Homo sapiens: one gene and its partners. The protein of the gene in region 6 purifies or fractionates together with the protein of the main gene of each other region. This does not show direct contact. Each region holds a gene or a part of one and is shown on either strand. Other genes may lie near its edges. The genes, in order: RNF111, DHX8, SRFBP1, IPPK, ZNF606, CDK12 and ERCC3.

Region 1 (4,209 bases), on a different chromosome or scaffold from region 6:
TAGTAGTAGTTATAGGTAGTAGAAGAGAATATTCTTTCAGGCATTTGATTTAATATACTTAAGCTGGCACATAGTAAAATAAATAAGAGAATTAAAAATTTAATACACACCCCAAGTGATATCCCTGTAGTACAGGTATTATTTTTTTCACTTAATTATATTAAAAAGATAGTTAAATGGTAGACATATTTCTAGTTGATTTTCTGATAATCTCTAAAACTTTTGTAGAAAAATGCCAAGTCATCTATGGCTTTTTTTTTTTCTTTTTTCTTTTGTGTCGGAATTTTGCTCTTGTCTCCCAGGCTGGAGTGCAATGGCGCGATCTCGGCTCACCGCAACCGCTGCCTTGCGGATTCAAGCGATTCTCCTGCCTCAGCCTCCCGAGTAGCTGGGATTACAGGCATGTGCCACCACGCCTGGCTAACTTTGCATTTTTGGTGGAGACGGGTTTTTTCCATGTTGGTCAGGCTGGTCTCGAACTCCCAACCTCAGGTGATCTGCCTGCCTTAGCCGCCCAAAGTGCTGGGATTACAGGCGTGAGCCACTGTGCCCGGCCGGCTTTTTTTTTTTCTTTTAAAATCTTATTTCTTTAGAGTCATGTAAGCAATCATTACATTTTTATTTAAAGTTGAAACAAGTATTCATATTTATAATTGGTGGTGAAGCATCATACCAATAATAGTGTATCACAGTTTAGAAGTAGAGTTCCTCAGAGTTGTATGGATAGTCTTAATGGGTTTTTCCTCCTTTTGCTCACATAAACTTGTTTATGATGTGAATTACTAAATCCCAACCCTAATTTTTAGTTTTGAAAGTTAGTATTTTTTTTTAGCTATCGTATTTTCTTAGTGCAAGGTTTACTAATAGTGGTGTATTCTACACTAGTATCAGGAGTAATTAGCATGCAGTCATCATGACATAGCAATGAAATGATTGGATCGATCTACACAAAGAGGGACTAGTATTATGGTTTCAGTATTGAAACAGTGTGTAACAGCAAGCCATTTATAATGTCACCAAGGAGATATATCTTGTACGCATTTGCCTCCTTTGTAAATTAGATCAGCCAATAATTTTTACAAAAATAAAAGACTAGAATATGGTTTTATCAAACAGCAAATAATTTAGAATATTATCTGTTATATTTGCTGCTTTTTAAGTTAAATGCAATACTTGTGTTTATTTCCTTTTGAACTTTCCTCTTCTAAGTTCAAAATACAGCCTGATACAATTACAGGGATGGATTTTAGAAAAAAAAATTTAGAACATGATACAATACAGCGATGGATTTTAGAAAAAAAAATAGTATGAATTACTCCCTGGGTGGGAACCTCTTAGTTATATGGGATATTAATTTTGCATTTAATGACTGCATGATATGTTAACTCAGAGAAGAGTTAACTGGTGTACAAACACACACCACAGCATACACCAAACCACCCCCCCTTGCTCTCCTCTACCCTTGTCTCATTGGACAGACTAAACTGATCAAAAATCAGAGCAGATTTAACCATAAAGAGTTGATTGCATTGTTTTGGCTTTGGGACATGAAATGATGGAAAAGAAATTGGGTTTAGTTAATTGTGCTGTGAATTGCTTCTTTGTAAATTAATGTATGGCTGCATGTTCTCAGAATTTGTCTGGTTTTTGGCAAGTTTTCATTGCTTCTCATGATCTCCATTATCAACATGAGGACTTAGTAATTACGGATGAGGAGTCTAATTTTTAAATCTTCAGCCCATAAAGACTCCAAGATCTCCTCCTCTGAAATCCACCAGAACATAACTCTGACATGGGTTTCTGGAAGAACCCCAGCTGTTTCCAACATACATCATGAGACTTCTGTTGCTGATGGAGTCTCTGATGCCTAGAAATCTTGATACTTTTCCTCTTGACTTTTTCACTTTTTTTAAACCTCTTGACTTTCTGGCAGGAGTTTTATTGAGATTTTATTTCACTGGGTTTTTAGTATATTCACAGAGTTGAATAGCTGGCACCACAATCAGTTGTAGAACATTTTCAGTTCACTGAAAATAAAAGAAATTCTATACCTTTTTTTCTTTTTTTTTTTGGGAGACAGAGTCTTGCTCTGTTGCCCAGGCTGGAGTGCAATGGCGCAATCTCGGCTCACTGCAACCTATGTCTCCTGGGTTCAAGCGATTCTGCTGCGTCAGCCTCCTGAGTAGCTGGGATTACAGGTGCCTGCCACCATGCCTGGCTAATTTTTGTATTTTTAGTAAGACAGGGTTTCTTTTCACCATGTTGGTCAGGCTGGTCTCAAACTCCTAACCTCAGGTGATCCACCCGCTTCAGCCTCCCAAAGTGGTGGGATTACAGGCGTGAGCCACTGCACCTGGCCCACCTTTTTTTTTTTTTTTCCCCACTCTTGTTGTCCAAGCTGGAGTGCAGTGGTGTGATCTCAGCTCACTACAACCTCTGCCTCCCTGGTTCAAGCAATTCTCCTGCCTCAGCCTCCTGAGTAGCTGGGATTACAGGTGCACGCCACCATGCCCGGATAATTTTTTGTATTTTTAGTAGAGATGGGGTTTCACCATGTTGGCCAGGCTGGCCTCGAACTCCTGACCTCAGGTGATCTGCCCGCCTCGGCCTCCCAAAGTGTAGGGTTTGGCCACCGCGCCTGGCCAGAAACTCCATGCTTTTCGGCCATCATAGTTGAATCCTCCGATGATCCCCAGCCCTAGGTAACCACATTCTATCTATGTAGATTTGCCTATTCCAGACATTCCATATAAAGGGAATCTTACATTATGTTATCTTTTTGACTGGTTTCTTTTACTTAGCATATTGTTTATCCATGTTGTAGCTTGAGTCAGTATGGTAGTCTGCGCCCCTGTCCAAGGGGAAACCATTCTGAGTCCCCCAGTGGATGCCTGAAACCATATAGTGTTTTTTTTTTCATATACCTACATGCCTATGATAAAGTTTAATTTATAAATTAGGCAGAATAAGAGACTAACAACAACAATAAAGTAGCAAAATTCTAACAACATACTGTGATAAAACTTATGTGAATGTGGTCTCTCTCTCATAGTGTGAGTAACTGAAGCTGTGGAAAGTTAAACTGGATAGTGAGGGACTACCGTACTTCATTTCTTTCTATTGCTGAGTAATAATCTTTTGTATGGATTTATTTATTCATCAGTTGATTGGCATTTGTGTTCCCACTTTTTTGGCTGTTATGACTAATGTTGCTGTTTATAAGTTTTTTTATGAATATGTGTTTTCATTTCTCTTGGGTACATACCTAGGAGTGGAAATGCTAGGTCACATAGCAATTTTGTGTTTAATTTTTTTTTTTTTCTTGAGATAGAGTCTTGCTCTGTTGCTCAAGCTGGACTGTAGCGGTGCAGTCCCAGCTCACTGTAACCTCTGCCTCCCAGGTTCAAGCGATTCTCATGCTTCAGCCTCCCAAGTAGCTGGGATTACAGTCAGTGCGCCACTATCCTGGCTAATTTTTGTATTTTTAGTAGAGATGGGGTTTCACCATGTTGGCCAGGCTGATCTCGAACTCCTGGCCTCCAGTGATCCGCCCGCCTTGGCCTCCCAAAGTGGTGGGATTACAGACATGAGCCACCGCGCCCAGCTTGTATTTAATTTTTGAGGATCTGCTAGACCGCTTCCCAAAGTAGCTTGTATCATTTTACATTTCCATCAGCAATATATGAGGGTTCCAATGTTTTTTTTTTATGCATCCTCTCTAACACTTGTTATTACCTGTGTTCTTTATTACAGCCATCCTGTTTGGCCCCATTCAACTCTTAGATCACATGTACCTGTGTTTTATCATTGTGACTTCTGTGTTCTTGCCTTTAATTAAAGTGATCCTTGTCTGACTGGCTGCCTTCTGTAATTTGCTCATTGCCATGCTCATGTTCACTCATCTTTGTATTCCTGGTTTATCACTGATCCTGCTGAACTACAGATAGCGCGTGATGGCTGATCTTGGATACAGCACTGCCTGTGCTTGTGAATAAGAATAAAAGAAGATAGTGGTTTTGATAGCTTTCTGTAGGAATAGGTCATTCTATGCCTTAATTATTGTCATTTGTTCTGATAGTAAAGTTATATACTATAGTAACATGGGAGACCTGTAAGATTATATATTTCTGTAACCCATTTGTAGAGAGGGAAAATACTTGCTTACTAAACAGCTGTTGTACTCGCTTTTTAGGAACTGGTTTCAAAATG
Region 2 (4,209 bases), 4.0 Mb from region 6:
TTCATGTATTCCAATTAGCTAAATTCAAGTGCGTAACCACCCTTCCCTACAGGACATTCTTTGCCTTTTAAGTGTATTTAAGCACTGATATGGGAGCTGACAATTTTCGTTCTATGTTTCTTTTCAAAGGATTCTCTTATTAGTAACTTGCTGCGTCTCATACAAACCATGCGGCCTCCAGCGAAGCCTTCCACTAGCAAAGGTAAGCAGAGCTTCCAGCTGAGCTTAGCTTCTAGAATGGTGTAGGTTTTGAACATCCTGTAAATTGCATTTGTTTTCCTCTCAGCAGTTGCTGAGCAAGTAAATGTTCCAGTAAGATTTTTCAAATGGGCTGGGCCTAGCGGCTCACTGCTGGAATCCCAGCACTTTGGGAGGCCAAGGTGGGAGTATCACTTGAGCCCAGGAGTTTTAGACCAGCCTGGGCAACATAGAGAGACCTCATCTCTACAAAAAAATAAAAAAATTAGCCAGGCATGATGGCGTGCCTCCGTAGTTCCAGCTACTTGGGAGGCTAAGGAAGGAGTGTTGCTTGAGTCCAAAAGGGTGAAGCTGCAGTGAGCCATAGTTGCACCAATGTACTTTAGCCTGAGTGACAGAGGTTTTTTTCCCCGTTTCAAGGGGAAAAAAAATTTCAAACGACTTAAGACAAAATAAAAAAGATAAGACATAACCCAATGAGTATTGCTACACTCCTCTTTCTGCTACATTTCGAGATAGTTTGTGATCAATGTATTTAGAAAATTAAATTACATTTATAGTAACAGGTATGATTAATATATAGCAAAATGCCATGTTCTGTTTCAGTTTGATACAAATCTATTGTTGAAGTTATTTTGTTAATCATTAATAATATTAAATATATATCTCTTTTTTTAACCCCTTCATGCTCTTTAATGAAACAAGATCCAGTTGTTAAACCTAAAACAGAAAAAGAAAAGCTGAAGGAACTCTTCCCAGTCCTTTGCCAACCGGACAACCCTTCTGTTCGGGTACTGATACCATTTTAAGAGTGTCTACTATAAATATATATTCTCAACCCCTTTTCTTTGTCTCATAGTAATTTTATTAATTTTAAGTTTGCCTTTGTTGTAACTTATTTTTAAGAATGAAAGTGTTTGATCACTCCCTGAGCATGTACTATGTATTGAATTTGTTAAGGGGTTCTGAGAATGATATTCAAGGGAAATGAGATTGGGAATTTGGGGAAGTAGTGATTAGGAATATGAAATAAGGTTCTGGAACAGATGCCTAAGGTGTGAAATTAGATTTTTTTTTTTTGCTCTGTTACTTGTTAAAGGTCTAATTTTTAAAGCATTTTGATTTTTAAATTTCATTTTAATAAATATTTATTGAGTACTTACTGTATGCCAAACACTGTTCTAAGTACCTGGATAACAGCAGTGAACAGAACAGACAAGAGTTTCAGCCTTTGGAGATTATATCCTAATTTTGGGGTAGGGAGCAGGAAATAAACATGTAAACATTCTGGTGGGGAGGAGATAGGCAATAAACAAACAAATAGGTATGTAACATAGCAGATAGCAATAAGGGCTATTTAAAAAAATAAAGCTGGAGTGGGGGTAGGGAGGAAGAGTGCAGAGGGAGAGTTGCTTTTTAAAATTTTTAACACCTGTTTTCTATTAATATAATCATCACTTGCATTCTTTCATGGCAGGGATGATTAATATCTAACTGCCTTTCATAGAATTCTATTAAGGACAGAGGGGATTTGTCAAATGTAGCAGTAATTCTCAAGAGCCTTTTTTCCATTTCTTCTGCATCTATCCTGAATCAAGTTTGAAATCTCTGCCCCTCTTCTATTTCCCTCACATAGTGATTAGTGATTTATAGATGTACCTGAGGTACATACAGATTCTTGAGTAGTTTTTTTTCCTAACTTTGCCGGCCTCTACCTCTGCAGACCATGTTGGATGAAGATGATGTGAAAGTTGCTGTGGATGTCCTGAAAGAACTGGAAGCTTTAATGCCCAGCGCAGCAGGCCAGGAGAAGCAAAGAGATGCTGAACACCGGTTTGTCCTTAGTGTCCTGTCCTTTGGAAGTTTAGGGTACTGTGACAGTTGAATATTATGGACCAGCCAAGCAAAATTTTGGGCAAGTTTACAGAATCTGGACTGGTCATATATCATATTGTTGGATCTGTTTTCATTGCTTCCTGCTAAGTGTATGTAGCAAATGCTAGGTTGTTCAGAATATAGAAGTCAGGGTTGAAAGAGGCTGAATATGTTTGTGGCTCAATTCTTTATTGGCTTATAGGGATGTCGTAGTTATTGAAACTCTAATTCAGTTCAAAACCTAGTGGGTACCTACCATGTGCATGGCACTGTACTGGGTGCTTGGGGATGCGAAGATGAAATCGGATTGGTTTCTTTTTTAAACAGGTGCTTATTGATTTGTTAGGGACAGGACAAAGAAGAAGAAGCGGAGTCGAAGCCGAGATCGAAACCGAGATCGAGACAGAGATAGGGAACGAAACCGAGATAGAGACCACAAGCGGAGACACCGATCCCGCTCTCGATCACGTTCCAGGACCCGGGAGAGGAATAAAGTGAAGTCTAGATATCGGTCCAGGAGCAGGAGTCAGAGTCCCCCCAAAGACCGGAAGGACCGGGACAAATATGGAGAGCGGAATCTGGATAGATGGCGGGATAAGCATGTGGACCGCCCTCCTCCAGAAGAGCCCACCATTGGTGACATTTATAATGGCAAAGTTACCAGCATCATGCAGTTTGGTTGCTTTGTGCAGCTGGAAGGACTAAGGTAATGACTGGTGCTCTTTTGTTCACACCAGTGATGGGCAGAATTTCTTTTATCACTGAGGATGTTCACATTCTAAAAAGTTACTTTGATTAATGACACTTTAGTCAAATCAGCCATACATGGTTCTTAGAAATTGACTCTTTTGAAATGTTACAGAGCCATTTATTCCTTTCTCTGTCTTCAGGAGATCTGTCCTTTGCTTGTTGGGACAGATAGAATTTGCTTCCCCACCCCATGTCTCCCCATGAGGAGAGTGTTAATACTATTTTATTGTTTGACCACCTTCATGGTACTTTTCTCTTGAGTTTAAGACCATTTTCTTTTGTTAGTTCCAGTAAGGGTAGAAATTGGTTGGGGGAAAAATATTTTTTGGCATGTTCCAGATGTGTCTGGCTCTCCCTCAGGAAGCGGTGGGAAGGCCTGGTGCACATCTCTGAGCTCCGGCGGGAGGGTCGTGTGGCCAATGTAGCTGATGTCGTGAGCAAAGGCCAGAGGGTCAAAGTCAAAGTGCTGTCCTTCACTGGGACCAAGACCAGCCTGAGCATGAAGGTAGGTGAGATGGTCAGCCTGTTCTTACATGTGATGGCCAAGGGAATGGAAGAGGACAGCAAGTGAGACAGCTCCCTTGTTTTTGTGCCTTAGGATGTGGATCAAGAGACTGGAGAAGATCTAAACCCAAATAGACGGCGAAATCTTGTCGGGGAGACCAATGAGGAGACCTCAATGCGGAATCCTGATAGACCCACTCACTTGTCCCTTGTCAGTGCTCCTGAAGTAGAGGACGACTCACTGGAACGCAAGCGCCTCACCCGAATCTCTGACCCAGAGAAGTGGGAGATCAAACAGGTTGGGGCCTTTAGTTTTCATGACCAGATAGTCATTCAGCATGTAGCATGGTGCTTAGGGGTGTGCCCTGGAGCACGATGGCCTGGGATAACTTTTGGCCACTGTATTAGTCTGTTTTCACACTCCTGATAAAGACGTACCTGAGACTGGGCAATTTACTAAAGAAAGAGGTTTATTGGACTTAGAATTCCACTTGGTTGGGGAGGCCTCACAATTATGGAGGAAGGTGAAAGGCATATCTCACATGGCAGTAGACAAGAGAGCTTGTGCAGGGAAATGCCCTTTTTAAAACCATCAGATCTCATGAGACTTACTCACTATCGTGACAACAGCGTGGGAAAGAGCTGCCTCCATGATTCAGTTACCGTCCACTGGGTCCCTCCCACACACGTGGAAATTCAAGATGAGATTTGGGTGGGGACACAGCCAAACCATATCAGCCACTTATTAGCCGTGTAATCCTTAGCTAAGCTACTCTACCTCATGCCTCAGTACCCTTTTCTATAAAACAGGACCAGTGTTGGTGGTGTGAGGATTAATTAAAGGTGAAAGTCGTTGGGCGTGATGGCTCACACGTGTAATCC
Region 3 (3,864 bases), on a different chromosome or scaffold from region 6:
TTGCCATTTTCCAACATATGGGTTTGGTTAGTAAATTGAGGTGTGTTTTGGGAGTGGGGGAAATGGACAGTGTAGGATAGTGGCGTGTTTGTTATTTAGAGATTTATTACGCTTTTCTAAAAAGAAATGAAGTGATTATCCATTACACTATAAGTCTAAAATTAATGCTTTGCCTGGCTACATATCGTAATGTATTTTTTGCAGGGGTACTGAAGATGCACTGTTAAAAAACCAAAGACGGGCGCAAAGATTGCTTGAAGAAATCCATGCCATGAAGGTAAGGACTTGTGTGGGTGTGTATGTGTGTATGTTTCTGAGTATCCTGTTATCCTGCATTTTGTTTGTGTGTGGTATTGCTTATTTGAATATTCCCGAGAGTTGCGTAAGACATCTTGTATCAGTCTGTTTGGTGAAGAATGTAGCACATTTAGAAAATTGTAACATTTAAGCTTGCATTTTTCTGTTTTTGACTGAATTTGTTAAAGTGCTAGGCTAATTTGAGTCAAAATTGTGCCAAACTAAATTCATCTATGTTTAATAATGCCTCCTGCCTCAGGTTTTTATTTTTACTGTAACTTTAGCACGAAGTCAGTTCAAGAATTAAAGTCTTCATGCTATTTGGGAATGTGGATGGTGATATTGGTGGCTGACATCATGCTTTCCTTGTTGCCAGCTCAATAAATTTTTATGTATTGGTATCGGCATTTTATTCAGTTCTGTAGTAACTTCAAATAAAATTAGTGTTAGACCAATGTGATCCCATATTTTTGTTTTTTTTTTCAGTCAGACTCTTCACTAGCATAATTTTTAGGTCTTCTTGCTGCTCTTACTTTGAGGAAACTTTCATTTACCAAATGACATGACATTAAATGTCTGGGAGACTGTTTTACTGTAGAACTTAAAAACAACATTTGGTCCCAGCAATTTTCTTAATTGCAGGGTCATTTTGCATGCATGTTTGCCTATTATATTTTGGTATAACTTTCAAGTTTTGAATTAAGTAAAAGAGAAATAAAACTCTCTAACTATTTTAATTGAGTTAAGTTATCAAAGATTCTCAGCCTTTCTTCCTTTTAAACGGATAGTAAAGTGTTTAATAGGACAAAGTTATCCCAGTTAATCTGAATAAAAACATCTAGGAAACGACTCTTTGATATGAAGTATATTTGTTTCTTGTGTTCTTCCTTCCCTCTGCTGCACACTATTATAAAATTCATGGAATCCATCTGATATAACTTTTATTTCTCAAGGTTATAATTCCCTTTTTATTCAGTCCTTCAGGAAAAAAAAGTCTTCTGTATTTGACTGTCAGTGATCATTTGTGTCTCTGTGGTTTGCAGATTATTTAGTTTTTTCATATACCTTTTTAAAATGATATTCCTATGAGAAATAAAATCTTTAGAGATTTTGTCTTGAGAATAGCAATAAAATAGGAAGTTACAATTTATCTCTTTCACTTTCTCTTAACCAAGGTTCTTACTAAATTACATTGCCTACCTAAATTTTTCCCTGTAATTTCTTCTGAATAGTCATTTTTGTAGTCTTAAATTATTCAGAGGCTTTGAGCTACTATATAATTGCTGATTTTATTTTACCATGGAAAGAATGCAGTGTGTGTGTGTATGCATGTATATATATATATAATATATATATGTGCATACACATACACATACAATGTATAGTTGGCTACTCTGACTTTAACTTCTTTTGTAATACTGTTTAAAAACTGGAGTAAACTGGAATTTGTTAAATTTTTTATATATATAAAAAATATATACATACACACACACTACATTCTTTCCATGGTTTGTTATATATAATAACTTGTATGTGGTGTATGAAGAGTTTGAGAACAAAAGATACTCAATCTTTAGAATACTTCCCTTTTGTAAATTTCAGTGATACATTTGATTAATTAGAAAGAAAAGTTGTCCTTTTTGATCTAAATGTAAAGCCTGTTTTCTGTTTCTTGTTTTGAATCTCATCAGCAAAGGGAAATCTGATTCAGTGATAAAGTTTGTAGGTTTACAAGATTACCACATCACTATCGTGGTTTGGTTTGGTTTGGTTTGGTTTGATTTGTGTTCTATTTTTCCCTGTGATTGCGCAATGGAATGGTTGCATCATAGAAAGCCAAATTCATAGCCTATGTATTCCTTAAATTCATAAAATTCATAGTATATATATGTCTTGAGTTTGTGGCAGGAGTTAGGGCAGGCTGGGTTGGCTACTCTGACTTCAACTTCTTTTGTAATGCTTTTTAAAAACTGGAATGAATTTAAATATAAAATGAATACTAGAAAGACTATATATTTGCTGTTCTTACGTGTCAAATTTTATTCCTTATTTATGGTTCTTTTACAAATTTTGTTGTCTTTTCTAAACAAAGCAAATAAATAAAGCATTTTTCTTAATTAAAAGGTCATTTGTAATTTTCTTAGGAAATGGTTATTACCTACTTGGGAGTATCAAATAAATGATGACAAAACAAACTCTCAATCTCAATTAAATTTGGAGAAAAGACCTCTGCTCATTTATTTTTCCAGAGAAATTTTTTCCTTGGCTCAGACACTGCTTCATTTTTATAGTCTTATTGATGACATACTATCCTATTCTTGCTTTCTATAATAATAGGGTATTTTGTTGCAGGATGACTTCTTTGTGAAGAAATCATGAGTATTTTTAGAAATGAGAGTTTGCTTTTTCTGGCCAACTAAGAAAAAAAATTGGCTTGATCTTTACACTATAAAATCATAGGTTCTAATTTTATAGACTATGGTGTATGAAACCCAAGTCTTTGCTGCCTTTTCTATAATAGTGTCCATACTTTTAACTTTGATATTAGTAGAAATATTGCCTTCTAAAACAGTTTCTTTTTCTTTGAAAGTTAGTTAAATTAGCCTATCAACACTTATAGATCAGTAAGTTACTTAACTGGAGAAGGAGATGGTAAAATTCAAGCATATACTGAAATTACTCAAAATGTGCAACAAGTCTCTTACTCAATAATAAAAGTAACAACTAGCTTTTACTGAGCATTTACTATGTGCCAGGCATTATATTATGTGTTTTATATTTACTGTCTCACTAGGTAGATATCATTTTTATCCCTGTCTTACAGAATAAGAAACTCAAGCTTAGAGAAACTGAGCAACTTATAACTGATTATAAAGCTAATTATGTTATCCACTGTAGTATACTGCTTCAGTAAGTTGAGAACATCCTATGATATATCCAGACTCACTTTCCTAGATATTGGAGGAGATAATTTAGTAAACATGAAACTTGCCATCTAGGAAAAAAAAGACTGAAAGATGTGCAACGTGTTTTCAGATCCTTTAATTCCTGACAGGTAAATATACACAGTAGCCTATATCTGTATTTCTTTTTTTTTTACTTGAGATGGAGTCTCTCTCTGTCGCCCATGCTGGAGTGCAGTGACCCGATCTCTGCTCACTGTAACCTCCGCCTCCTGGGTTCAAATGATTCTCCTGCCACAGTCTCCTGAGTAACTGGGACTACAGTTGCCTGCCATCATGCCTGGCTAACTTTTGTATTTTTAGTAGAGACAAGGTGTTGCCATGTTGGCCAGGCTGGTCTCGAACGCCTGACCTCAGGTGATCCGCCCACCTCGGCCTCCCATAGTACTGGGATTACAGGCGTGAGCAACCACTCCTGGCCTATCTGTATTCTTTTTTAACCTCTTCCTCTCTTAAGGCTGTTACTTCTTCCTATCCTGAATATTCTTTAAGATGAGAATTTATGTATTCTTCTTTGAGACCTTGTTCTGCCTGCTACCTCTTACTTCTCCTCTAGTTTAAAACTTTCTCCTTTTGTTCTATTCTTCCCCTAGTTTTACATTCT
Region 4 (4,209 bases), on a different chromosome or scaffold from region 6:
TTAAGGTCAGATGGAGCCTGTGCCTGATGTGGTAACCTGAACCAAGCCTAGCCCACCAGCTCTGCCCTGTGGCCTGTTTGCTCAGGCTGTGGACCGAGGAGGAGAGAGAGCAATTCCCAGAAGGCAGCTTTTTAGGACCTGTTGAGTTCGAGCAGAGGGTGTGTGTCAGTGGGATAAGAGATGGGTGAGGTAGAATAGGAGGAGTCCGTGGTCTTGTGGATGCTGAGCATGCGCCCAGCCTCCTTCCAGCCGGGTGTGGGAGCAGGTGGACCCTGCTACTGTACTCCTTAGATCCACCTCATTCAGTCCAAGAGAGAGGGAGGCCTTTGCCAAGTTTTTCCAGGTAAGGAGAGGGTTGCTTTCTCTGAGAGGACATCAGCTTCTCTCAGAATTGAAAGGTCCCTAATGAGTCCTGTGCTGACCCCCATCCCCTCTACCATGAGAACATGATGCGCCTTCAGCCAGCCTGAGCTCGTCCTGCAGGAGCCGAGGGCCTAGGTAAGGAGATCTGCATGGTCATTGGCTGTCAGCACTAGAAGGAGCACAGTGATGTTCTTCCTGCAGTATGCAAACATGGGATGAGAGAGAGCCTTCTGTGCAGCGCAGGACTTGTAGGAAATGAGGCCTGGGGATGGAGGAACTAGGTGTGGGCTACAGGAGGGTGGGAGGTTGTGCCCAGGGTGGGCAGGAAGGTAAATAGCAGGCCAGCCATAGAGAGGCGTTTAAAGGTGTTCCTGACAGAAGGTGGTCAGCTTCCCCAAGGCCCTTCCACTCAGAGACGGCCCAGGATGATTCTCATTTTGCCTGTCAGTTTGCATTCTGCCTCTGTTTGGGATGGTTGTGCACCTGAACTTTCCCAGGCACAGGTAACCATGGTGTTCTCTGCCTCATGTGGTGTGGACCCTGTGGCATGCTTGAGAGGCTCTCGGCAGCCTGGCATGTTCCCTGGTGTGTGTCTGGAGCTCCAGACACTGACCCTGTGGGGGCTCCTTGATGAGGGAACTTCCCATCTGGGCACAGTTTCCTCGCTGCAGCCTGAAGGTGCAGTACTTGGGCCAGTGGCCACATCTCAGGTTAGTGAAGTCCACAGGTTGCCCCTTTATGCACTGCCGCAGGATTTCTCTCCTGTGTGACGCCTGCGCCTGCCTCCTTCGCCTTCAGCTTGTTGGTTTTGGCTCAGTGTCCTGTCCTATGAAGGTCACTTTAGGTTTGGTTTGTCATTCCATCTCCTAGGTGTCTTCAGATCTGGATCATGCACTTGTCTGGGGCACTGAGCCCCTTCCGGACCACCTCAGCCTTGGGGAGCAGGGGCAGAAGGTGGCCCACTCCTGTCATGACACTAAGCTGTCATGATGTTTTCCTTCTTACTGACAGAGGTGACAGGAAAGACTTTGCCATTTAGTTGGCTTACCAGCCAACTAAATTGATCACATGTGTGGACAAAGCTGCTCACTTCCAGTTGTTCCAGTTTCGTGACCTTTCTGAGAGTCTGAGAGCTTCAGATCATTTCTGCAAATTGTTTTGTTGCCTGGGGAGTTTTGGTGTCCCTTTGGTACCTGTTTAGTGCTTGGGATATTTGTCTGGGCATTGAAGGTGTGAAGCTCAAGCGGTCAGGTGCCCTTCTACTGTTTCTCTTCTCATCTTGTGTTTTAAGATTTCTGGTTCATAGATCATATATATATGTATTTTTTTTGCCATACAGCATGATTTTGTATATTTTAATAATTTAAATGATTATTTTGTAGTGGATGAATTAAGTCCTTTATATGAGGATGTGTTTACAGTTACGTAGAAAAAGCAGGTTACAAAAGAAGATGCATGATGTGGTTATAATTACAAAATGATTAGAAGAAAATAGATGAAAATGTTCTAAGTGGCTGTAACTGATAGTATCACGAATCACTTTTACTTTTTTTTGTTTTTTAAATATTTTCTGAATTTCCTACAATGGATATGTATGATACTCAGGAAAAAAGATTAATTTTTAAAAAGTTTATACTCTTTGATTTACTAATTTCTGTTCTAGTAGTCCGTTCTAAGGAGATAATTAGAAACGTAAATAAAGATCTTATACACAAAGATATCCATTACAGAATCACTTAGAACAGGTTAAGTGGAAAGCCATTGTGCAGTCCTGCAGGACTGTTAACTGGGCCATACTTCCTACTGTGGATGCTGAAAGCACATACGTTTATGTTCTCTGTTTTTTTCTGACTGTATAACATGTGCCCAAGCCCTTGGTCGCTCCCTTTTACAATTTTTAGCTGGACCTAGTTGAAATAGTCTTAGCTTTCTGTTACTGCTAGCATTTTGTTTAAACTAGTGATGTATTCTGCATTTGGGATTTTTAGTGGCGCTCTAGGCTGACGCAGCTGATGTGGCTTCTTTCCTGGTGATGTTCCTTCTTGTCTCATTTGAGCTCATTGGAGAGCTGTGCTTGTGGCTCGCTCTTTGTTTATTCCTTTCTTTGTATCTGCAGTTGCGTGATGAGGTCTGCTGTTTGGTGACTGCAGCCTGTGACAGTGCCTCTCGTGCACGGGGGTTTGTTGGTTTGGCCTTGGCTCACCTCCTACTTTTACACCTTCTGAGGTCACACAGCCACTTTTCTTCTGCCTGACTGAGCCTCCTTCTGCATCAGAATTCAGTCAGAGCAAAGCTCCCCAGTGACTTCCTGTGTCTTCTGAGAGCTGCGATCCAGGAGGGTGAGAAAAGCATCATTACTGTGTCTGCAGAGAGCAAGGCTGTGCCTAGGGCCCGGCCACTCCTGCCTTGTTGCCAAGCGGTTGGGAGATCTGAGGGCCCGGACTTGCTCACAGTTCCCTGTGGCCCTCACTGTGGGCCTCTAGGCAGCCCTGCTTCCCCTTTACAGGCAGTGAGGCTTTCCATGCCTATAGGGGTCAGCCCCATGCACGAGGTGTGCCTATCCCCACAGGCCTCCCCATGTTCTGAGAGTTGTGTGGGTGTGTGACCTCCCCCATGGCCCACACCTGTGCCTGCTTCAGTCCTGCAGAGGACACCATGAGGTCAGGACGGAGTTGCCGAGGCTTGAGGACATGCCCCATACAGGTTGGACAAGGGGCCAGCACTTACTGCGCCCTGACCCCAGGCTGTCTCCAGTCTGGCCTCCCTGCTCTTGCCTGCAGAGTACTGGGCTCCCATCCTCCACAGGCATCTTGGTGATGTCACTTTTCATCCGGTGTCAAATGTGCTTTGTATTTCTATCTGAGGCCATACATTCCCAGTGAAGCGAAGCTCACCCTTGGGAGCGCTTCCTGTTGGAGCCCAGTACCGTAAGCCCTGCTTCTTGTTCCCTCCACGGTCCTACGCATCCTGGACATCCCTTTCTGGGTTGCAGAGGTGGACTTCGGCACCTCCTGCCCCTGGTGACTGACAGACCCCGGGCAGCCTTCTCTGGCTGGGACAGAGCTGGAGCTGGAGCTGCGGGGGTAAGCTAAGGAGGGTCTACAGGGAGGGCAGCCTCTTGAGACTGGACATTTGGGATCCCCCATGGCCCCTGCCTGGGAGTCATCTTCACAATTCGGAAGAAGCTGGAGCTGAGCATTGCTTCTAGAAGGCATCCTGAGGGGTGACCCCTGCTGCTGTTGTCTTTTTCTGTCTTCCCTTCCCATGAAAGTTGTCTGATCTCAGCTTCAGGTTATCTCCTCAGCCTGATGGAAGACTTGACCTTGGTCCTTGTCTTTTGACAGATCTCTGGAACAGCTGATTTTGTGGGTGATACCCCTCCAGAGTGAGTCCTCTGTGGGTGGCGGGAAAGTCTCTCCTCATCTGTCCTGAAAGGCTCTTGTAGTTAGTAGCTTTAATTCCACCCATAAGGTGCCCCCTCAGGCTTCCCATTGGCAGGTGTCCCTTTTAATGTATTGGGGTTTTTGTGGCCTTCTATTTTTATTTAACACCAATTGTTGCTTCTTCTCTCTGAAAATATAGAATATCAGAAGGAAGGAAGTGAAAAACATCCAATATTTCTCCATGAAGAGAACAAGTTTTGTTAACACTTTGGTGCACTTTCTTCTAGTCTTTTTCTATTTATTGTCAAGCATCGCTTAACACCAGGGATGCATTTTGAGAGCTGCATTGTTAGGTGATGTTGTTGCCATATGAACACACCTAGATGGTAGAGCCTGCCCCATGCCCAGGCTGTGTGGGGCAGCCTATGGCTCCTAGTCCTCAGACCCGCGCAGCATGGTTCTG
Region 5 (4,209 bases), on a different chromosome or scaffold from region 6:
CCACTAAAGGCTTTTCCACATTCACTGCATATAAAGCGTTTCTCTCCACTATGCATTCTCTGATGAATAATAAGGGAAGAATTCTTACAAAATGCTTTTTCACAATGATTACATTTGTAGGGCTTTTCTCCAGTATGGTTTCTTAGGTGTACAATAAGGGATGAACTCTCATTAAATGCTTTCCCACATTCATTACACCTGTATGGTTTCTCTCCAGTATGAGTTCTCCGGTGTGCAATGAGGTGAGAACTACAGTTAAAGGATCTTTCACACTGATTACATTTATAGGGTTTCTCACCAGTGTGAATTCTCCGATGAGCAACAAGGTGACAGCTCTGACTGAAGGATTTTCCACATTTATTGCATTCATAGGGTTTTTCTCCAGTATGAGTCCTTTGATGTCTAACAAGGTGAGCCATCTGGCTACAGGATTTTCCACATTTATTACATTCATAGGGCTTAATTCCAGAATGAATTATCTCATGTTTAGTGAGGGCTGAGCGTTCTCTGAATGCTTTGCCACATTCCTGACAGTTATATGGTTTCTCTCCCGTGTGAGTTCTCTGATGGGCAATAAGATGGGAGCTCCAGCTGAAGGATTTTCCACATTCAGTACATTTATATGGTTTTGCTCCAGAATGAGTTCTTTCATGTTTACTAAGGGCTGAGTAGTCCCTAAAAGCTTTTTCACATTCATCACATTTAAAGGGTTTCTCTCCAGTATGCATTCTCATATGGGCAATAAGATGGGAGCTCCAGCTGAATGATTTCCCACATTCAGTACATTCAAAAGGTTTCTCTCCTGTATGAGTCCTCTGATGTCCAATAAGATGAGAGTTCCAGTTGAAAGATTTCCCACACTCATTACAAACATAAGGTTTTTCTCCTGTATGAATTCTCTTATGTACAATAAGATGAGAATTCCAGCTGAAGGCTTTTCCACATTTATTACATTCATAGGGTTTTATTCCAGTGTGAGTCCGTTCATGTTTCGTAAGGGCTGAGCGATTCCTAAAAACTTTTCCACATTTATCACATTCATAGGGTTTTTCTCCAGTATGAGTTTTCTTATGTTGAATAAGGTAAGAGCTCCAGATGAAAGACGTCCCACATTCATTGTAGTCATAGGGTTTCTCTGCAGTGTAAGTGCTTGTATGTTGAGTAAGGAAAGAGTCATACCCAAAGACTTTCTCCCATTCATTGTATTTATACGCTTTCTCTACAGTACCAATTTTTTGATGTTCCATAAAGGATGAGAAATAAAAGATATTCTCATATTCTTTGTAATTATACTGGTTTTCTCCAACATGAAGCCTTGGGTGTTCATTAAATGATGGGCTCTGGTTAAAGATTTGATGGCATTCCTTATATTCATAGAGTTTTTCTCCTGTGTGAATTCCTTTATGATCACCAAAATGTATTATATGATTGAAAGATTTAACAGCATCAGTACATTTGAAAAGATTATCTCCAGTTTGTATTCTTGCAGGGTAAATAGGTTGAATGGACTGATAAACAGTTTTGTCATAATCATTATTTTCACAGGTAACCTTATCTGCATACATTATGGCTGAGTCACATCTCCAACTTTGAGCATGTGTATCAGGCTTATAGAAATGTTCTATCTGAGAAACTCTCTGAGATGGAACAAAGTTTAAGTTCTGGCTAAACTCTGCCCCAAGTCCACAGAATTCAGAGCTTCTCTGGGATAGTACTTGCTTTTGCATGAAGACCATCTGCCTCATAGCTGTACTCTGGTTCATGTGGTACATTTCTAATTGGTCTTTACATCCCAAAACTTCTAACCTGGAGAACCAAGGATCATCCCATATATATCTTTCCAACTTCATGCCATGGGATTGTTCTTCCTCAAAAATGCTCTGTGCTGGGATCAATGCTTTGCTTTCAAGATTTCTCACCCATTCTGAAACAGACAGAAAAAAAGCTATGAGAGCATAGAGAAAGACATTAGAATAAAGTGGGAATGGTGAGATTTACTGTCCATATTATCAAAAACACTAGTATAAATTTGTTTTCAAGTCCAGGCTTAGAACTCAGAGAAAGATCATAATAGGGAAAAGAATAGTGAAAAGTAAACAACAGTTAACCAGAATACAAAGTGTGTACTGAAAACTAATGAAACCATTTAAAAGTACTTTCCATGAAAAGGAAGACCAGTATAAGAATGTGCAAGAAAGAGGCCGGACGAGGTGGCTACGCCTGTAATCCCAGCACTTTGGGAGGCCGAGGCGGGCGGATCATGAGGTCAGGAGATCAAGACCATCCTGGCTAACACAGTGAAACCCTGTCTCTACTAAAAATACAAAAAATTAGCCAGGTGTGGTGGCGGGTGCCTGTAGTCCCAGCTGCTCAGGAGGCTGAGGCAGGAGAATGGCATGAACCCGGGAGGCAGAGCTTGCAGTGAGCCAAGATCGCGCCACTGCACTTCAGCCTGAGCGACAGAGCGATACACCGTCTCAAAAAAAAAAAAAAAAAAAATGTGCAAGAAAGAGTTAACTCTGCAGGCCTGACGTGCTCAAACCTTGCAAAGGTAGCCTGTTTCCTAACTGGCCCTTAGCCAACTCCTAGGAATTAAGATCTTGGAATGTTCTAACTAGTAAGAGTGTTTTGCATGCTCAAGGTATTGAAGCACATTTACTTTTAACTTATTTAGATATGTGTGCAAACAATGTCATTCATAGTGATCACCTGCTTTCCCTCAGGGTGGTCTGGAGTTTCAGCGATGGCAGTGAGTCACGCAGGCACTGTGTGCCTGGATGAGCAACCTCTCAATAAACACACTGGACTCCTAGACTCAGGCAAGTTTCCTAGTAGAAATTTCGCACGTGTTGTCACAACTCCTTGCTTGAGGAATTAAGTGTGCCCCATGTACGCTACTGGAAGCTTGCACCTGGTCTAACCTCATGCACCTTTTTCCTTTGCTGATGTTGCTTTGTATCCTTTCACTGTAATACACCATAATCCTGAGTATAATGACTTTTGAGTCCTATAAGTACTCATAGTGAATCAGTGAACCTGGAGGTGGTCTTGAAGACCCCTGACAAAAGGACCCAGTGAATGTTATTAAGGTTAAAAAAGAAAAAAAAAGAATAAAGCCTTTCATCTTAACAAAAGTTAGGTAGATGAGCACACAAGGCCTTTAGCAAGTAATATTTACATCATGAGTGCTCTCACTTCTGTGTTATAATGTCCTTCTACTCCCATATCTTGACAAGTGCAGAAAAAAGGAGGAGAGGGGTGTTTAGAGAGTATCACCAAGCGAGGCTTCAAGCCAGGATGTTATCTATGACAAAATGCTTTGTTTCCTATGTCACAGAATCCAGTCAATCACACAAGATCCACCAACCCAAAGGGCAAACATCACCAGAGTTTATGGATACCCCTAAAGTTACACTTCTATCCACCACAGAATATTTTTAGAGCAATGATAGATGGACTAGGAAGACAGCATAGTGTGAAAAAACAGACACAGGAGTTACAGTCTGCTAATCTGTATGTGAACAATGGCCCTGCTGCTATCCTTAGAGAGCTTTTCTGATGACTAAAGTCGAGACTCAGAATCCAGCCAAACTCCTGGCAAGTTTAATACACAGGAACTGCCTATTATCACTGCTTAAGTATCAATCCTCTAACAACCAAAGGAGGCTATATTAGTTTCTTTCTGCTATTGTAACAAATTACCACACATTTAGTAACTTAAGGTAACACAAATTTATGATCTTTCCGTTCTGGAAGTCAGAAGTCCAAAACGGCTTTCACTGGGCTAAAATGGAGTTATTGGCCGGGTTGTGCTCCCTCCAGAAGCTCTAAGGAATCCACCATATCCTTGCCCTTTCCATCTTCTAGAAGCTGCCCCAATTCCTTGGCTCGCAGCTCCTTCCTCCATCTGCAAAGCTCATCACTCCAACCTCTGCTTCTGTCATCACATCCTCTCCCATGTCTCTGACCCTCCCACCACAATCTTATAAAAGGACCCTTGTGAGTACATTTAGAATCCACTCAGACAATCCAGGATAATCTCCCCACAGCAAGATCCTTAATTTACTCTCATCTGAAGGTCCCTTTTGCCATACAAGGTGCCCCATTCACAAATTCTGGAGATTAGGATGCAGATATCTTTGTGGGGGAAGTCATTATCCAGATTGCTACAGGGTCTAAAGCCCCAGGCAGGTCCCAACAAGAACTAGA
Region 6 (4,209 bases):
ACCAGCCTAATGCAGACTTTTTTTTTTTTTTTTTTTTGAGATGGAATCTTGCTCTGTCACCCAGGCTGGAGTGCAGTGGCGTGATCTTGGCTCACTGCAAGCTCCACCTCCCAGGTTCAAGCCATTCTCCTGCCTCAGCCTCCCGAGTAGCTGGGACTACAGGTGCCCACCACCACACGCGGCTCATTTTTTTGTATTTTTAGTAGAGACGGGGTTTCACCATGTTAGCCAGGATGGTCTCGATCTCCTGACCTCATGATCCGCCCACCTCGGCCTCCCAAAGTGCTGGGATTACAGGCGTGAGCCACCGTGCCCGGCCAATGTAGACATTTTTTAAAGGTGATAAAGGTGATATTTTTGTTGTTGTTATTTGGTAAACTGTTGATTATCTCTCAAAATTTTCAGTCTTATACTCTCTTCTCATCTCACAGTTTACCCTATAGGGATACTATAGGATCATCTTAGCCCTTTGTAATTACTACTAACTGAACAGAACAAAACTGGTAATAAAAACCTGTATGGGGGGATTAAAACATTTCACAAATCCAAATAATGTGGATCATTTAGGATTATTATCCGAGTATTTTTTCTTTCCTCTGTTATAACCAGTTCTTTCTGTTCTCTGCCTTTCTGCCCTTAAAGCAGTAATGTCATATTTTCCTTTCTGCATGCCCTGTAATGTAATAACCAAAGATTCCCCAGACCTCAGGAGGTAATAATTTCTGCTTCTGAAACCTCCGGAATTCATGATGTTGACTCACTCACTCCATTGTTCTTGCTTTTGCTTTGTTTTCAGCCGACTTTGTGGTAGCCCTTGTCCAGCTGTGTGGCCTGATGTTATCAAACTGCCCTACTTCAACACCATGAAACCGAAGAAGCAATATCGAAGGCGTCTACGAGAAGAATTCTCTTTGTGAGTTTGGGGAAAATGAACATCTCGTTTCTGTGTCTGGCTGGTGTTGGGACTTGGCTTTTTCCTGGTCTGGGTAGTTAATGTTGTCCCAGTTTATCATGGCAACACAGTGTAGGAAAACATTTTAGTTTCGAACAGTATATGAGTTTTATCATAGCCCTTTTGTAATTTTCTCTTCTGAAGGCTTTAGACAATAGAAAACCATTTTATTTTGAACAATATATAAATTTTCTCATAGCCTTCTTGATCTTTCCATGAGAAAAAGAGAATGGAATTGTTGGCTTCATGGGTTTTGTTTGTTTGTTTTTTAAATTGAGACAGGGTCTTGCTGTGTTGTCCAGGCTGGAGTGCAGTGGCACGTTTAGGGCTCACTGCAGCCTTGACCTGCTGGGCTCAAGCAATCCTCCCACCTTAGCCTTCATTTTTTTTTTTTTTTTTTGAGACAGAGTCTCACTTTGCCACTTAGGCTGGAGTGCAGTGGCATGATCTTGGCTCACTGCAACCTCTGCCCCCCAAGTTCAAGTGATTCTCCTGCCTCAGCCTCCCAATGTAGTTGGGATTAGAGGCCTCTGCCACTGCACCCAGCTAATTTTTGTATTTTTAGTAGAGACAGGGTTTCAGCATGTTGGCCAGGCTGGTCTTGAACTCCTGACTTTGTGATCCACCCACCTCTGCCTTCCAAAGTGCTGGGATTATAGGCGTGAGCCTCTGAGTCCGGCCCCACCTTAGCCTTCTGAATAGCTGGGACCACAGGCACCCGCCACCACACCTGGCATTTTTTTTTTTTCCGTGTAGAGATAGGGTCTCCTAATGTTGCCCAGGCTGGTCTTGAGCTCCTGGGCTCAAGTGCTCTTCCTGCCTCAGCCCCCCAAATTGCTGGGCTTAAACTTTGAGAGGCTGAGGCAGGAAGATCACTCGTGCTACCACGCCTGGCCATGTTTTGGTTTTGTTTTCTTCTTACTTTTTTCCCTCTCTGTTATTTTATTTTACTTTTTTTAACTTTAATAGATGGATAGAACTGGCCATATTTTTGTGTGTGTCACCCAGGTTGGAGTGCAGTGACGCGATCTTGGCTCACCACAACCTTCGTCTCCCAGGTTCAAGGAATTCTCCTGCCTCAGCCTTCCAAGTAGCTGGAATTACAGGCACCCGCCACCATGCACAGTTAATTTTTGTATTTTTAGTAGAGATGGCATTTCACCATGTTGGCCAGGCTGGTCTTGAACTCCTGACCTCAAGTGATCTGCCCACCTCAGCCTCCCAAAGAGCTGGGATTATAGGTGTAAGCCCACCACACCTAGCCAGAATTGGCCATATTTTTTACTTGTGTTATAGCACAGCATTTCTCGTTTGTTTGTTTTTGAGATGGGGTTTCGCTCTTGTTGCCCAAGCCAGAGTGCAGTGGCATCATCTCGGCTCACTGCAACCTCCGCCTCCTGGGTTTAAGTGATTCTCCTGCCTTAGCCTCCTGAGTAGCAAGGATTACTGGCACGTGCCACCACACCCAGCTAATTTTTTGTATTTTTAGTAGAAACGGGGTTTCACCATGTTAGCCAGGCTGGTCTCGAACTCCTGACCTCAGATTATCTGCCCGCCTCGGCCCCACAAAGTGCTGGGATTACAGGCATGAGCTACTGTGCCCGGCCCAGCATTTCTTAAATCCTGTGTGGGAGCAAATCTGCTTGCTTGTGTTAGCCAACCTCCAGCTTGCTTTCTTTGGTTTTACATGGAAATTCAAAGACTTTTTTTTTTTTTTTTTTTTTTTTTTTGAGACCGTCTCACTCTGTCACCTAGGCTGGAGGAGTGCAGCAGTGTGATCTTGGCTCACTGCAACCTCCGCCTCCTGGGTCCAAGCGATTCTCAGCCCTCCAAGGAGCTAGAATTACAGGCGTGCATCACCATGCCTGGCTAATGGGGTTTCACTATGTTGGCCAGGCTGGTCCTGAACTCCTGGCCTCAAACGATCCACCCGCTTCAGCCTCCCAAAGTGCTGTGTGGGACTGTAGGCATGAGCCACCATTGCACATCCTTTTTTTTTTTTTTTTTAAAAAGAGATGGGCTCTTGCTCTGTTGCCCAGGCTGCAATGCAGTTGTGCAGTAAGAACTCATTGCAGCCTCAAATTCCTAGGCTCAAGTGATTTTCCAATGTCAGCCTCCCAAATAGCTGAGACTACAGGGTGCACAGCATTGCACCCAGCTAATTAAAAATATATATATATTTGTAGACATGAGGTTTCAGTATGTTGCCCAGGTTGATCTCAAACTTCTGGCCTCACGCAGTCCTACCTTGGCCTCCCAAAGTGCTGGAATTACAGGTGTGAGACCCTTTGAAACAAAATTACAAATTTGAGAACTGTAGGGTCATTGTGAACTTGTCCTTTCTGTGTTCTTTTCCATAGCATTCCTTCTGCAGCACTTGATTTATTGGACCACATGCTGACACTAGATCCTAGTAAGCGGTGCACAGCTGAACAGACCCTACAGAGCGACTTCCTTAAAGATGTCGAACTCAGCAAAATGGCTCCTCCAGAGTAAGTGCTGGTAGCCATGTTGTGACCCTAAATCTTTCCCTGGGCCTTAGACGATGAGAAACTCATAAAAGAACCACAGATGCCCAGTAAGACCCAAATGAAGAGGTGTCTTTGAGTATTATGGTTGAGGTTTGTTTTTTTTGTTTTATCTTTGTTGTTTTTTTCTTTATATAAGTAATAGATTTAGCTTTGATACTTGTTCTAATTTGACTCAAGCTATCTTCTTTTGTCCCTGGATCTCCATCCCAGAATATTGTTGTGTAGAGCCTCTTTGAAAGTATTCCTTTTAGATTTTTGTGGGTTGGTTTATTTATTTATTTATTTATTTTTGAGATGGAGTCTCTGTCGCCCAGGCTGGAATGCAGTGGTGCAACTCAGCTCACTGCAACCTCTGCAGGGTTCAAGCGATTCTCCTGCCTCAGCCTCCCGAGTAGCTGGGACTACAGACACACACCACCACACCCAGCTAATTTTTGTATTTTTAGTAGAGACGGGGTTACACCTTGCTGGCCCAGCTGGTCTCGAACTCCTGACCTCAGGTGACCCACCCTGGCCTCCGAAAGTGCTGGGATTACAGGCGTAAGCCACTGCGTCCAGCGTGTTTTTGTTGTTGTTGTTGTTGTTGTTGTTTTGAGATGGAATCTTGCTCTGCCTCCTCCACCTCCCGGGTTCTAGCGATTCTCCTGCCTTAGCCTTGCAAGTAGCTAGGATTACAGGTGCCTGCCACCACACCCGGCTAATTTTTTTGTATTTTTGTTTCATTTT
Region 7 (4,209 bases), on a different chromosome or scaffold from region 6:
GATTACAGGCGTGAGCCACCGCGCCTGGCCTTCTATTCACATTTAAGGGAGTTTTTAAGGCTAGGCACAGTGGCTCACACCTGTAATCCCAGCACTTTGGGAGGCCAAGGTGGGTGGATCACTAGAGACGAGCCTGGCCAAAATGGTGAAACCCCGTCTTTACTAAAAATACAAAAAAAATTAGCTGGACGTGGTGGTGCACGCCTGTAGTCCGGGTACTCGGGAGGCTGAGGCAGGTGAATCACACTTGACCCCAGTAGATGGAGGTTGCAGTGAGCCGAGATTGTGCCACTGCACTCCAGCCTGGGTGACAGAATAAGACTCTATCTCAATCAATCAATCAATCAATCAATCAATAAAGGAGTTTTCAAATTAGAGTAAGGAATAAGTAATGAATTATATTCACATTTGCTAGCAGATCATAGTCCTGTCAGTTTATAAAAGCTACTGTCTCAGCCTCCCAAGTAGCTGGAACCACAGGTACACACCACCACGCCCAGCTAGTTTTATTTTTTGTAGAGATGGGGTCTCACTACATTGCCCAAGATGGTCTCAAACTCCTGGGCTCAAGCTATCCTCCTGCCTTGGCCTCCCAAAGTGCTGGGATTATAGGTGTAAGCCACTGTGCCCAGCCAGCCGACTACATTTTATGACTTATAAGCTGAATCCTCACAGCAGTCTTGGCAAGACAGGATTGTCACCCCCACTTTGGATGGGAAAACCAAGTCTCAGAGGAGAAAATAATTTGCCAAAGGTGACACAGCTGGCTTGGTGCCTGAGTCCATGCTATTTCTAGTCCATGCTATCTGCCTCATCTCCATTTTAAATACAAGCTACTAGACGCTTCTTAAACACATCTGAACGCAGTACAGTTCCAACAGATGCCCACTAATCTTGTCATTTTCAAACATTCTAGCAGTCCAGATGCCTCCTTGAATAAGCAGACTCCTTGAGGATAGGGCTTGTGTCCTTGTCTCAGGATGTGCCCTGGTCCCAGTAAGACAGACACGGCCATCTCTTAGCAAGAGTGTCAGTCCCTGCCATGTCCACAATGGCAGTCTGGGCCCTTTTACCGCAGTAAGCAAGCACAGGGGTGCCACGCCTCCTCAGAAAAAGCCTTTGCAATGAGGATTCTCACCTCCTCACTCACTGAGCTTGCCCTGCCCCTGCTGCAAGCTGCCACCAGGGCGGCACTCTGCACAGGTTATGAATGACGTGCCCATTGTGTGTCTGCCCAAGCTGCTCCTACCAAACCTTTCCCTGCCTCCTGATCAAGTTCCAGAAGCAGCTTCCAGCTCCTCCACTTACACTGGTGGCCCAGCTCTGTTTTCTCCCTTCCATGTCTACCCCATAAGCACTGCCTTGCCCTGGCTCCCTCTCACCATCTACCAACACAGCTGCACAGTGTACAGAGCACATCTGTGTGGATTCCGTGACACTGTCATGGAAAACACCTGCATATTCACCCCCAAGGTATGAGAAATAATGATGGGCCATAAGGATCTAGGTCTTTGCTTTGGGATTCTCTCCCTCCAGAGTCTATTTAGCCCCAGGGCACATGGCAGCTCTCACCCCTATCGTCTTCCTAACTAAAGTGGTTTAAGAGGAGTGACCTCCTGCAACAGAAGATGAAAGGCCACTTTACCTTTTTTAGCTCGAAGCACCCGCCCTAGCCTTTGGGCTTCCTGACGCCTGGAGCCACCATGGGATGAGATCTGAATGAGGACATTTGCTTCCGGCAGATCAAACGAAGTGTCACCTACCTACAGAAACAAGTTGGAAGGTTTTTATATATGAGGAAAAAAAAAAAGTCAACTGATCCAGAATTTAAATAAGTTCTGTAGATAATTTTGAAACATAATCACTCTTTTCTCCTCTTTATACCAGGGTCTATCTGATGCAGGCAGAGAGAGGTGAAGCAATAAACCTCAGAAAGGCATCTCTGGGTCTCCAGGACCTTGTGTGAGTTCTGCTAAGAGTCATCCTGAAGAATTAATACCAGGCATCAGTGACATTCAGTGCTGGGTGCCAGGAGCCCAGAGATGAGAGGGCCCTTGAACAGAGACTGACTTTGAGTCATTCATTTTTTTGGCTACAGAAATATGTCTCCACAAAACCATCCATACTCTTACCTGTTGGCCACTGACACCAGCAGCACACGTGGGATGTGACCTGGGAGGAACAACTGCCCCATATGGAATTCTGACTGTAGGTGGATTCCTCAGCTCTGGGGCTCCAAACATCGAGGTTCCCAGCCACAGACATGAAGGTTTGGTGCTTATAAGCGCCCAGCCACAATCACATAAAATCTCATTTCTTTTTTTTTTTTTTTTTTTTTTTTTTTTGAGACGGAGTCTCGCTCTTGTTGCCTAGGCTGGAGTGCAACGGCACAATCTCAGCTCCACTGCAACCTCCACCTCCCGGGTTCAAGTGACTGAACCCTGCTGCCTCAGCCTCCTGAGTAGTTGGGATTACAGGCGTCTGCCACCACACCCAGCTAATTTTTGTATTTTTAGTAGAGACAGGGTTTCTCCATGTTGGCCAGGCTGGTCTCGAACTCCTGACCTCCGGTGATCCACCCGCCTCAGCCTCCCAAAGTGCTGGGATTACAGATGTGAGCCACCGCGCCCGGTTGTAAAATCTCATTTCTTTTGGGCTTTGGGTCTGTCTTAATCTGAATGACTATTCTAAACTGTGGGGCTACAGCTTCTGATTGCAGAGTAAACCATCCCTGAGCTGGGCCTGCGGAAGTCTGTGCTGACATCCACCACCCATCATCAAGGGACACCAGGAACCAGGACAAAGGCTGCCGCGACACACAGGATCTCCAACTTGTAAAGAGAACTTCATCTAAATGCCTACTTTTGCCAGAGTAGGAAATGAACTTTTTTTCCTTTTATAAATAAGGAAATACAACTTAAAACTTCTACATCCCCAAAAGAACTGGAAAAACCTCAAATAGCCTTTATAGATTATCCATGATGCATGCAAATCCTCAGTCTGCTCCTTCCACTAACCCCAGGCAGTGCCCCCTATCCCTGGACATGTCGGAAATGAAAACATGCAGGAGAAGTTCCTTCAGCAGACATGAATTCACTGTCCAGGAATCATAGTGTACCCCCCAGGTCCCCAGAGTGCTAGGGGCCTCACCTCCACCCCATATGCCACACAAACCTTGGATATGAAGATGGTGTTAATTTTGGGGTTGTGCTTGAAATTCTGGAGAATTTGCATCCTTTCCCCCTGAGACGTAGGTCCGTAGATATAGGGTCTAGAGAAGAATGAAGCTGTGTTAGACCACAGAATAATGCCTCAGTTATCTTGAAAACACATCAGAGGGAAAAAGGAGCTCAGGCTAGCTCTTCTCAAGTAGAAAGCCCTCGTCATGTAGGAATATCGTTACACCCAAAAAAATGACTGGCTACAGATGCACCTCCCAGCCTTCCCCACTGATTCTAGGTTTAGGCCCACCATTCTCTTCGGGATTCCCTCCTTTCCATTTTTCGTTTTCTTTTTGGACTATGCTTTTTCCTGCTTCAACATCTCTTACTCTCAGCACAGAGTCTATACAAGGAGCATCTCCACATTTCATGAAGCCCAAAGAGAGGTGCAAAGAAACCACTGCTATTTCCAAAAAAAGGCTGGAAGCAACTGTTTGCCAAGACACAGGCATGCTCCAAGAGATGAGCAGAAAGGAGAAAAGTGCCCTTCAGCCATTATTGTGCTGATTTCCCATAACACTAAGTTTTAAAAACTTCTCTTTAATTTCTAGCTCCCTGCCAGGCGCGGTGGTTCACGCCTGTAATCCCAGCACTTTGGGATGCCGAGGCGGGTGGATCACCTGAGGTTGGGAATTCACGACCAGCCTGACCAACATGAAGAAACCCCGTCTCTACCAAAAATACAAAATTAGCCGAGTGTGGTGGCGCATGTGTGTAATCCCAGCTACTCGGGAGGCTGAGGCAGGAGAATCACTTGAACCGGGGAGGCAGAGGTTGTGGTGAGCCGAGATCGCGCCATTGCACTCCACCCTGGGAAACAAGAGTGAAACTCTGTCTCAAAAAAAAAAAAAAAAAAAAAAAAAAATTTTCCAGCTCCCTGCCAAAGGGTACAACCCTATCAATGAACTCAATGGTTATCATCCCATAGCATTGGGAATGTCACACTCCTTCCCTCTGTCTTGGAATGTGACGGTGGACAGTTTTTGTA

The links.
Region 1: the proteins of CDK12 (region 6) and RNF111 purify together in Homo sapiens (affinity purification with mass spectrometry, with the first as the bait; one large-scale study listed by BioGRID). This does not show direct contact.
Region 2: the proteins of CDK12 (region 6) and DHX8 purify together in Homo sapiens (co-immunoprecipitation; one large-scale study listed by IntAct). This does not show direct contact.
Region 3: the proteins of CDK12 (region 6) and SRFBP1 purify together in Homo sapiens (co-immunoprecipitation; one large-scale study listed by IntAct). This does not show direct contact.
Region 4: the proteins of CDK12 (region 6) and IPPK fractionate together in Homo sapiens (co-fractionation; one large-scale study listed by BioGRID). This does not show direct contact.
Region 5: the proteins of CDK12 (region 6) and ZNF606 fractionate together in Homo sapiens (co-fractionation; one large-scale study listed by BioGRID). This does not show direct contact.
Region 7: the proteins of CDK12 (region 6) and ERCC3 purify together in Homo sapiens (affinity purification with mass spectrometry, with the first as the bait; one large-scale study listed by BioGRID). This does not show direct contact.

What each region holds. Positions count from the first base shown.
Region 1 is NC_000015.10:59,025,474-59,029,682, forward strand, and holds part of RNF111 (E3 ubiquitin-protein ligase Arkadia), read left to right. Parts: intron 1-4,209. UniProt on the Homo sapiens protein: E3 ubiquitin-protein ligase. Required for mesoderm patterning during embryonic development. Acts as an enhancer of the transcriptional responses of the SMAD2/SMAD3 effectors, which are activated downstream of BMP.
Region 2 is NC_000017.11:43,490,262-43,494,470, forward strand, and holds part of DHX8 (ATP-dependent RNA helicase DHX8), read left to right. Parts: intron 1-129; coding exon 130-202; intron 203-903; coding exon 904-989; intron 990-1,921; coding exon 1,922-2,031; exon of another isoform or gene 2,032-2,113; intron 2,114-2,400; exon of another isoform or gene 2,401-2,419; coding exon 2,420-2,779; intron 2,780-3,183; coding exon 3,184-3,328; intron 3,329-3,421; coding exon 3,422-3,625; intron 3,626-4,209.
Region 3 is NC_000005.10:121,975,111-121,978,974, forward strand, and holds part of SRFBP1 (serum response factor-binding protein 1), read left to right. Parts: intron 1-204; coding exon 205-277; intron 278-3,864. UniProt on the Homo sapiens protein: May be involved in regulating transcriptional activation of cardiac genes during the aging process. May play a role in biosynthesis and/or processing of SLC2A4 in adipose cells.
Region 4 is NC_000009.12:92,663,299-92,667,507, reverse strand, and holds part of IPPK (inositol-pentakisphosphate 2-kinase), read left to right. Parts: intron 1-4,209. UniProt on the Homo sapiens protein: Phosphorylates Ins(1,3,4,5,6)P5 at position 2 to form Ins(1,2,3,4,5,6)P6 (InsP6 or phytate). InsP6 is involved in many processes such as mRNA export, non-homologous end-joining, endocytosis, ion channel regulation.
Region 5 is NC_000019.10:57,978,356-57,982,564, forward strand, and holds part of ZNF606 (zinc finger protein 606), read right to left. Parts: intron 1,925-4,209; coding exon 1-1,924. UniProt on the Homo sapiens protein: May act as a transcriptional repressor.
Region 6 is NC_000017.11:39,516,644-39,520,852, forward strand, and holds part of CDK12 (cyclin-dependent kinase 12), read left to right. Parts: intron 1-796; coding exon 797-913; intron 914-3,312; coding exon 3,313-3,444; intron 3,445-4,209. UniProt on the Homo sapiens protein: Cyclin-dependent kinase that phosphorylates the C-terminal domain (CTD) of the large subunit of RNA polymerase II (POLR2A), thereby acting as a key regulator of transcription elongation.
Region 7 is NC_000002.12:127,269,691-127,273,899, forward strand, and holds part of ERCC3 (general transcription and DNA repair factor IIH helicase/translocase subunit XPB), read right to left. Parts: intron 3,272-4,209; coding exon 3,175-3,271; intron 1,764-3,174; coding exon 1,646-1,763; intron 1-1,645. UniProt on the Homo sapiens protein: ATP-dependent 3'-5' DNA helicase/translocase. Binds dsDNA rather than ssDNA, unzipping it in a translocase rather than classical helicase activity. Component of the general transcription and DNA repair factor IIH (TFIIH) core complex.